Linked DNA regions of Homo sapiens. The protein of the gene in region 2 interacts with the protein of the main gene of each other region in a pairwise test. Each region holds a gene or a part of one and is shown on either strand. Other genes may lie near its edges.

Region 1 (3,600 bases), on a different chromosome or scaffold from region 2:
TCAAGTGCTTTATCAGAATCAAAAATCAAGGAATACATAGGCAGGTCACTCTATAAATGGGCAGGGTCAAGGCAGAAGAAGGGAGAAGCCACTGCCCCTTAAGCAACATTTGCTACACAAAGGCCAGGCTCAAGAGGTGGGAGGGGATAAGGTATAGGGTACTTTTCCCAGACAGCCTGTAAGCCTTCTAAGTATCTACATCCAACAAGGAACTGAAAAGGTTGGCAACAGAGGGAAGGTGGGAGGGCAATGGAAAGGTAGAAAAAAACTGCTGGCTCCAAAATATGCACAATTAGTAAATGTTTAATCAAATAACCACAAAAGATAATGCTGTCAACCCCATTCTTAAACTTACCACTTATAAACACTTTTTGAAGAAAAACATTTCATAGTATGCACAATAAGAAAGCATAGCCAACTGTAAATTTGATGAAATATCCATAAGTCAATTATTCCAAAAGCAATTTTTCAACATTTCTATTTAATGAGATGAAGATGCTTGTTTAACACATTATTTGAAGTGATACAGGGTCTCCAAAAACCACTCGAGGTCTTGGAAGTTTGTTTTTGTTTTTTTCTTTTTGACACAGGGTTTCACTAGGCGCCTAGGCTGGAGTGCAGTGGCGTGATCTCAGCTCACTGCAGCCTCGACTTCCTGAGCTCAAGCAGATCCTCCCACCTCAGCCTCCTGAGCAGCTGGGACTACAGGCGCTAAACACCACACCTGGCTAATTTTTGTATTTTTAGTAGAGATGGGGATTCGCCATGTTGCCCAGGCTGGTCTCAAACTCCTGCGCTCAAGTGATCCACCTGCCTCGGCCTCCAAGAGTACCGGGATTACAGGGGTGAGCCACTGCGTCCGGCCTTGAAAGATCTTCTAATGGTCCTCATAGTACTCCATTCTCCAGCATTTTCTACATCTGGCAAGCTCGAAAGTGAAACCCTAGTGGGCCATCATGCAGGTTTTGAGTTATTTACTGTTACAGATGAGGAAACTGCGAAGCTACATGGCCACAGTCAACAACGACAACAGAAGGCAACATAGTATGGCGGTTAAGAGCACCGACTCTGAAGCCAGCCTGAATCCTAGAGCCAGAGCTGTGCAACAGCAGGTAAATGACTTATCCTGTGCAGTTTCCTCCTTAATGGAAATAGTGCCCAGGCCACAATATCGCGAGATTTACACGTAAAGCTGGAAACAACTCCCGTCCTAGAGTAAGCACTGTTTACTATTAAGCAGCATCAGTAGGGCCCCTTTGCAACCTGCAAACCGCTCCCTCGACGTTACCTCATCTATGCCTCATTTCAGTGCCACTTCAGGCCTTTTCCAGGACAGTGAAAAACCACGAGACACAGCCAGTTAAGTCTGAGTCAGGACCCCTGTCCCACTAGTGCGCTGTGCTCTGGTGCGGCAGGGCAGTTTTCTGACCCAATCTCCTCTTCTGCTGTCCTCTGCAGCACCAAGATAACAATCACAGCCGGCCCCAACCGGCACCTACCGCGAAGGTCACAACTACACTCGCGGGTTTTTAAATCGCCCACTACTCACCAGTCCCGGAAACTTCTCTGCGTCACTTCCGGTCCCGCGTCGGCGCTCCGGATGCTGTGGCACTTGGCTCCCCGTAGCGGGAGAGCTGGGCGGAAGTGGTCCTTTCCGTTTGGCAGCCGAGTGTAAAGCATTGCTTGAGGTTGCCCAGGTAGTTTCGCCTTACACTTCTTGTCCCAGTGCAATTATTAGTAGAGCTCCCTTTCACTGTCAAATTTCCGGTTGGGGATAAATTGCATTGTCGTTTTGGTTTGAGATAGGAAGATGAGGGGAGGAAGGAGGTGAGGCGGTAAGGGGCGTTCTCTCTCTTGGGTCCCGCGCCCAACTTCCGCTGGCCCAAAGAAACTATAATTTTGAACCAACAGACCTCTGCTGGCATCTGCGATTGCATTTTTCCTGTTTTAACAACGGCTGTGCTAGACGAAGTGGTGAAGCCCAAGTATGGAGTAACGTCATTAATTCTTTCATTCACTTATTCGAATGCTTGCTGAGTTCTGTGTTGCTACTGGTTTAGTTCTTGGGATACTGCGAGTGAACAGTGGGCGGCGAGGCTGTTGTTGCAACGTCAGAGTAAAAGAAGGACCCTGCACGGCGGCCTCCCAGCACTTCGGGAGGCCGAGGCGGGCGGATCACCTGAAGTCAGGAGTTCGAGACCAGCCTGGCCAACACGGCGAAACCCCGTCTCTACTAAAAATACAAAAATTAGTCGTGCATGGTAGCGCGCGCCTGTAGTCCCACCTACTCGGGAGGCTGAGACACGACAATCACTTGAACCCGGGAGGCGGAGGCGGAGGTTGCAGTGAGCCGAGATCCTGCCGCACTGCACTCCAGCCTGGCGACATAGCGAGACTCCGTCTCAAAATGAAAAAAAAAGAGAAGTTCATAGTATATTAGTGATAAGTGCTGTGGTGGAAAAAAAAAAGTTCATAGTATATTAGTATAAGTGCTGTGGTGAAAAAAAAAAAAAGCGAATTTCATAGTATATTAGTGATAAGTGCTGTGGGAGAAGGAAATAGGAATGTCCTAGGGCTGAAGGGCTAAAGCAGTTCTGTGTAGGATTGTCAGGTCAGTTAAACTTGACATTTAAGCAGAAATTTGGAGGTGAGGAAATTAGCCGTAGAGATGTCTGAGTATAAGAATTCCAGGCAAAAGGGACACCCAATGCCTGGACCCTAAGGGAAGGTATCTGGGTTATTGGGGGACTTGCAAGGAGGCTCTTGAAGAAGAGCAAGCCGGGCAAGTAGGAGATTGGGAGGCTTGAATCGGGTAGGATATCTTCTATAGCCGGGTTTTTATTACCTAGGGGATGCCATTAGAGGATTTTTTTTTTTTTTTTTTTTGACGGAGTCTCGCGCTGTCACCCAGGCTGGAGTGCAGTGGCGCGATCTCAGCTCACTGCAGCCTCCGCCTCCTGGGTTCAAGTGATTCTCCTGCCGCAGCCTGCTGAGTAGCTAGGACTACAGGCGCCTGCCACCACACCCGGCTAATTTTTGTGTTTTTAGTAGAGACGGGGTTTCGCCATGTTGGCCAGGCTGGTCTCGAACTCCTGACCTCAAGTGATCCACCCGCCTCGGCCTCCCAAAGTGTTAGGATTATAGGCGTGAGCCACCACGCCCGGCGAGGTTTTTATTTAAAATGTTCAGTAAAGATGAGCGTGTGTGAGTTAAGACAGGAAAATGAGCCTAATTCTTTTTTTCTTTTGGGACTAGAGACTTATTTTTGAGCTCGCTGTAAGACTGAGAAATCACGTAGTCCTTCCTGAAACCACTAAGAGGAAAAATGGTAAGTTTTGAGCAATTTTTATCTAATGTCTTTCATTATAAGTAATTTTTAGAAATTCAGTCAAGGGCAATAAAAGTTCATGGAAATTGCAGTGGCAAGATGGAGAAATTGTATAATATAGAAGCACTTAATATGGAATAATTCTTTTAAAAAATACACAAAATTGCTTTAAAATTCTTTAATGTTGTCACTTAAAATGCACAGAATTTACCTTTTTTTTTTTTTTTTTTTTTGAGTTTCACTCTTGTCTCCCAGGCTGGAGTGCAGTGGTG
Region 2 (3,945 bases):
CAGGACATGAAAATGCCTTGCGCTTATTCTGTAGGTCCTCTAAAACCATTTTATGTGTATATCAAGGGCTCAGATATCATTTTGGAATAATAATACTTAACATTTCTGGAGCTCTTTAAACCTTTTCTAAAGATACTTCATACCAATCCAAGTGCTTGCTCCATATTAGAGATGAGAGGATTGAAGCAGAGAGGACAAAAGCCATCGGAAACAGTTTTGGAGCTCACATGGGGCAATGTCATCAGTGGGGGGAACTGGTGGTGGGGCCCTGGTCTGCAATCTGTGGTCTTGTGCTCTTTCCCTCAAACCATATCATTTTCCCAATGACAGTGCACAAAAAAATAGCACCACTGTGACTAATGACTTTTTTCCAATTGCAGAGATTACTTCTAGATTTTTGCTCATTTTCCCATGGCATTGTGTGTATGGGGCTTGCAATCCCAGCACAACACTATCTGCTTCCCAAGAGCATCACCTAGCCCAGCCTGTTGAGGGCCTCAATTGTTGAGGGCCTCCATTGTCCTGGGACTCCGCATACCACATGCTCCTGGATCTGGCACTACCTTAGTCCCTGCCTCCTAGAAGCCATCTTCGGTGTCCAGTAATGCTTCACCTTCCCTCCTCTTTATTTTTTATTTGTAGAGATGGAGTCTGTGTTGCCCAAGCTGGTCCCAGACTCCTGGCCTCAAACCATCCTCCTGCCTTGACCTCCCAAAGTGCTGGGATTACAAGTGTAAGCCACCACACCTGGCATCGTTTCCCTTCTCTTGCTTTTTTTGTTTTTGTTTGTTTGTAGGTACGGTCTTACTCTATCACACCCAGGCTGGAGTACAGTGGCACAATTACAGCTCACTGCAGCCTCAACCTCCAGGGCTCAAGCAATCCTCCCAACTCACCTTCCTGAGCACCTGGGACTACAGGCACACACCACCAAGCCTGGCTAATTTTCATTTTTGTAGAGGCAGGGTCTCACTGTTGCCCTGACTAGTCTCTAACTGCTGGGATCAAGCAATCCTCCCACCTCAGCATCCCAAACTGCTGAGATTACAGATGTGAGCCACCATGCCTGGTATCTTCTCCCGTCTCTTGAGTGTCATTTCAGGTGTTGACATGATAGTATCACACACATTAAGTAAGACCCGTGGAAGCCCCTGTGCACCAGAGCACAGCAGCCTGTGAGTGAAAGCCATGGGATGCCAGGTGACCGTGCCTACATCTATGAACTGGCCTGCCCCTTATGTGCAGACAGCTCCTTGCCTTGTTCCTTAGGTAGCTGGAGACTAGGTGTGGGCAACCACTACAGCATCCTGTTGGATTCTCTAGAAGACATCTTTTTCTTTTCTTTTTTTTATTCATCCAACCCAAAATGCCTTTGTTTTTCCAGTCGTAGTAGGGACGGGGCCTCGCTATGTTGCCCAGGCTGGCCTCCAACTCCTGCCCTCAAGCGATCCTCCCTCCCAATGTGTTGGGATTACAGGCTCGAGCTACGGTGCCTGGTCAGACACACCATCAGCTCTCGGGGCTCCAGGGTCCCCCTCCCACGGCCCACCCTCCCTCCTGTCTTCGGTAAAAGTGGGACATGGCGATGGGAGTAAATCACCCCAGTGACTACTGGGCGGAGGGTGTAGGGGGTGGGGAAGCACACCTAGTGGGTGTAATTGACAGGGGTTGAAGGTGGGTGGGTAGGGGTGCAGGTGGGCGGGGGAGTTGCAGGTGGGCGGGGGAGGGGCGCAAGTCCGCGGGCCCCGCCCCCAACCCCGGCCCCGCCCACCCGCCGAGGACCGCTATGCCCCGCGCCCGCTTCTCCCCCGCGCCCCTCCCCACGCCCCGCGGCCCGCCGCCCGCCCGGGTACCTCCTGTGGCAGCAGGGGCAGCGCGTGCCCCGCCTGCGTGGCCGTCGGCGTGGCCGGCTCCAGAAAGTCGTCTTCGGCGTCAGAGCTGGACATGGCACCGTCCTGACGACGGCTGTCTGGCTCCCGCCCCGTGACTACCACCATCCCTCTGGCTCTGGGCAGTGGGCGCGGCTTCGGGCGGGCGGAGGCGGCGGCCCCGGGCACTCCCTACCGCCGAGCAGCGCCTGGCATGACGCGGCCGGCTGCGGGCTGGCCGGAGGGGGGCGAGAGGCAGTGCGCAGGCGGGAGGGCGGTGGCTCCCTCAACGCCGACCCGCTCGCGCCCAGCTGGGGCCTGACCCGACCGCCTCCCGCTACTGGCCGACGCCGCGCTGGTTCCGCCCTGATTGGCAGGAAGCTCGCCCAGTCGAAGAGCAGGCAGCGCCAGCGGCCGGCGCCTGAGTGGTCCCTGGGTTGGGGGGGGGGGGGGGGGGCGGCCTGCGAGCCTGCCGTGCACTGATTGGTCCTCTGGCCAGCGGGCGCGCCCTCTCCGAGAGACCCGGCGGTGGTGCGCCGCTACGCTCTCATAACTGGGCGTCGGAGTCTGCCGTGAAGAGGGTTCTCACCCGCGTCAGGGTAGACGCCTTATCCCTTCACACAGGGGGTCACGACTTACTCGTGTGTCTGGCCCCAGAGCAGCGGGTCCTTGTCTCCTCAATGGAAGGCCTGAGCAGCCTTTCCTGGAGGATGTGGCGGGAGGAGGGCTGAGGTGGCTGCGGACACGCCACCGCGGCTGGCCCCGCCCCGAGCCGCAGGGCACCGCCCGGGTGTCCAGTTCTTCCTCACTCGCTCGCGCAGAAATCCGAACGAGAAAACCCAAAATAGGAGCGCTTGAGTTCAATGAATAATGACAGTGACTCCCCACCGTGACCGTTTTTCCACCGGGACACACAGATGGAGACAGGCCCTTCCCCAAGATGCTCCCGGCTCCCTGGGAGGCGGAGTCCAGCCCTAGAGGCTCTATCAGCGCAGGGAGTCTCCTGGGGGTCAAGGTTCTTAGCCCGTTCAAGCCATTTTCTCCTTTCTTTAAAAGACAAAGTCTCACTCTGTTACCCAGGCTGAAGTGCAGTGGCGCAATCATAGCTCATTGCAACCCCTGGGCTCAAGCAATCCTCCCGCCCCAGCCTCCCGAGTAGCTGGGACCACAGACGCGCACCACCACACTCAGCTGATTTTTTAAAATTTTGGCCGGGCGCAGTGGCTCACGCCTGTAATCCTGGCTCTTTGGTAAGCGATGCGGGTGGATCACCTGAGGTCAGGAAGTTGAGACCAGCCTGGCCAACATGGTGAAACCTCATCTCTACTAAAAATACAAAATTAGCCAGGCATGGTGGCACACCTGCAATCCCAGCTACTAGGGAGGCTGAGGCAGGAGAATCGCTTGAACCCAGGAGATGGAGATTGCAGTGAGGCGAGATCACGGCCACTATACTCCAACCTGGGCAACAAGAGCGAAACTCCGTCTCAAAAAAGAAAAAAAAATTTTTTTTTTTTTTTTTTTTTAAGAAATGGGGTCTTGTCATGTTGCCCAGGCTGGTCTCAAACTCCTTGCCTCAAGCTGTCCTCCCTCGTCAGCCTCCCAAAGTGCTGGGATCGCAGGCGTGTGCAACCATGCTTCTCCTTTTCAAACCGTTTTCACACCCAGTTCCTCATCTCATTCTCACAGTGTAGTGACAGAAAAGAAAACTGAGTCGTAGATTAGACAGCTCCAGGATGGCAAAGATGAGCTGGTGGCATAGCACTTCCTCTGTTAGACCATCGCACTCCCAGCTGCAGGAGTGTCCTAGGTCTGTGTTTTCTCCAACTTCAGTTGCATCAAAATCCCTGGAGGGAGACCTTGTTTAAACACAGATGAAAAGGAATGAAATCACGTCATCTGCAGCAACGTGGATGGACGTCATTATGTTAAGTGAAATAAGCCAGGCACAGAAAGACATAAATATTGCATGTTCTTATCTGTGGCAGCTAAAACAAATCGATCTCATAAATTTAGAGAGTAGAAAGAAACCAGAGGCTGGGAACGGTTGGGTGAGAAATGAAGAGATTTAGGTTAA

The links. Proteins that work in one complex are often made in the same cells at the same time.
Region 1: the proteins of KCTD7 (region 2) and NIF3L1 interact in binary tests that used the Homo sapiens proteins (3 or more experiments, as listed by UniProt).

The regions. Positions count from the first base shown.
Region 1 is NC_000002.12:200,887,341-200,890,940, reverse strand, and holds the start of NIF3L1 (NIF3-like protein 1), read right to left. Parts: upstream 1,571-3,600; 5' UTR 1,289-1,570; exon of another isoform or gene 1-1,288. Other genes in the region: PPIL3 (peptidyl-prolyl cis-trans isomerase-like 3), read left to right, coding at 3,326-3,328. UniProt on the Homo sapiens protein: May function as a transcriptional corepressor through its interaction with COPS2, negatively regulating the expression of genes involved in neuronal differentiation.
Region 2 is NC_000007.14:66,627,117-66,631,061, reverse strand, and holds the start of KCTD7 (BTB/POZ domain-containing protein KCTD7), read right to left. Parts: upstream 2,182-3,945; 5' UTR 1,998-2,181; coding exon 1,854-1,997; intron 1-1,853. UniProt on the Homo sapiens protein: May be involved in the control of excitability of cortical neurons.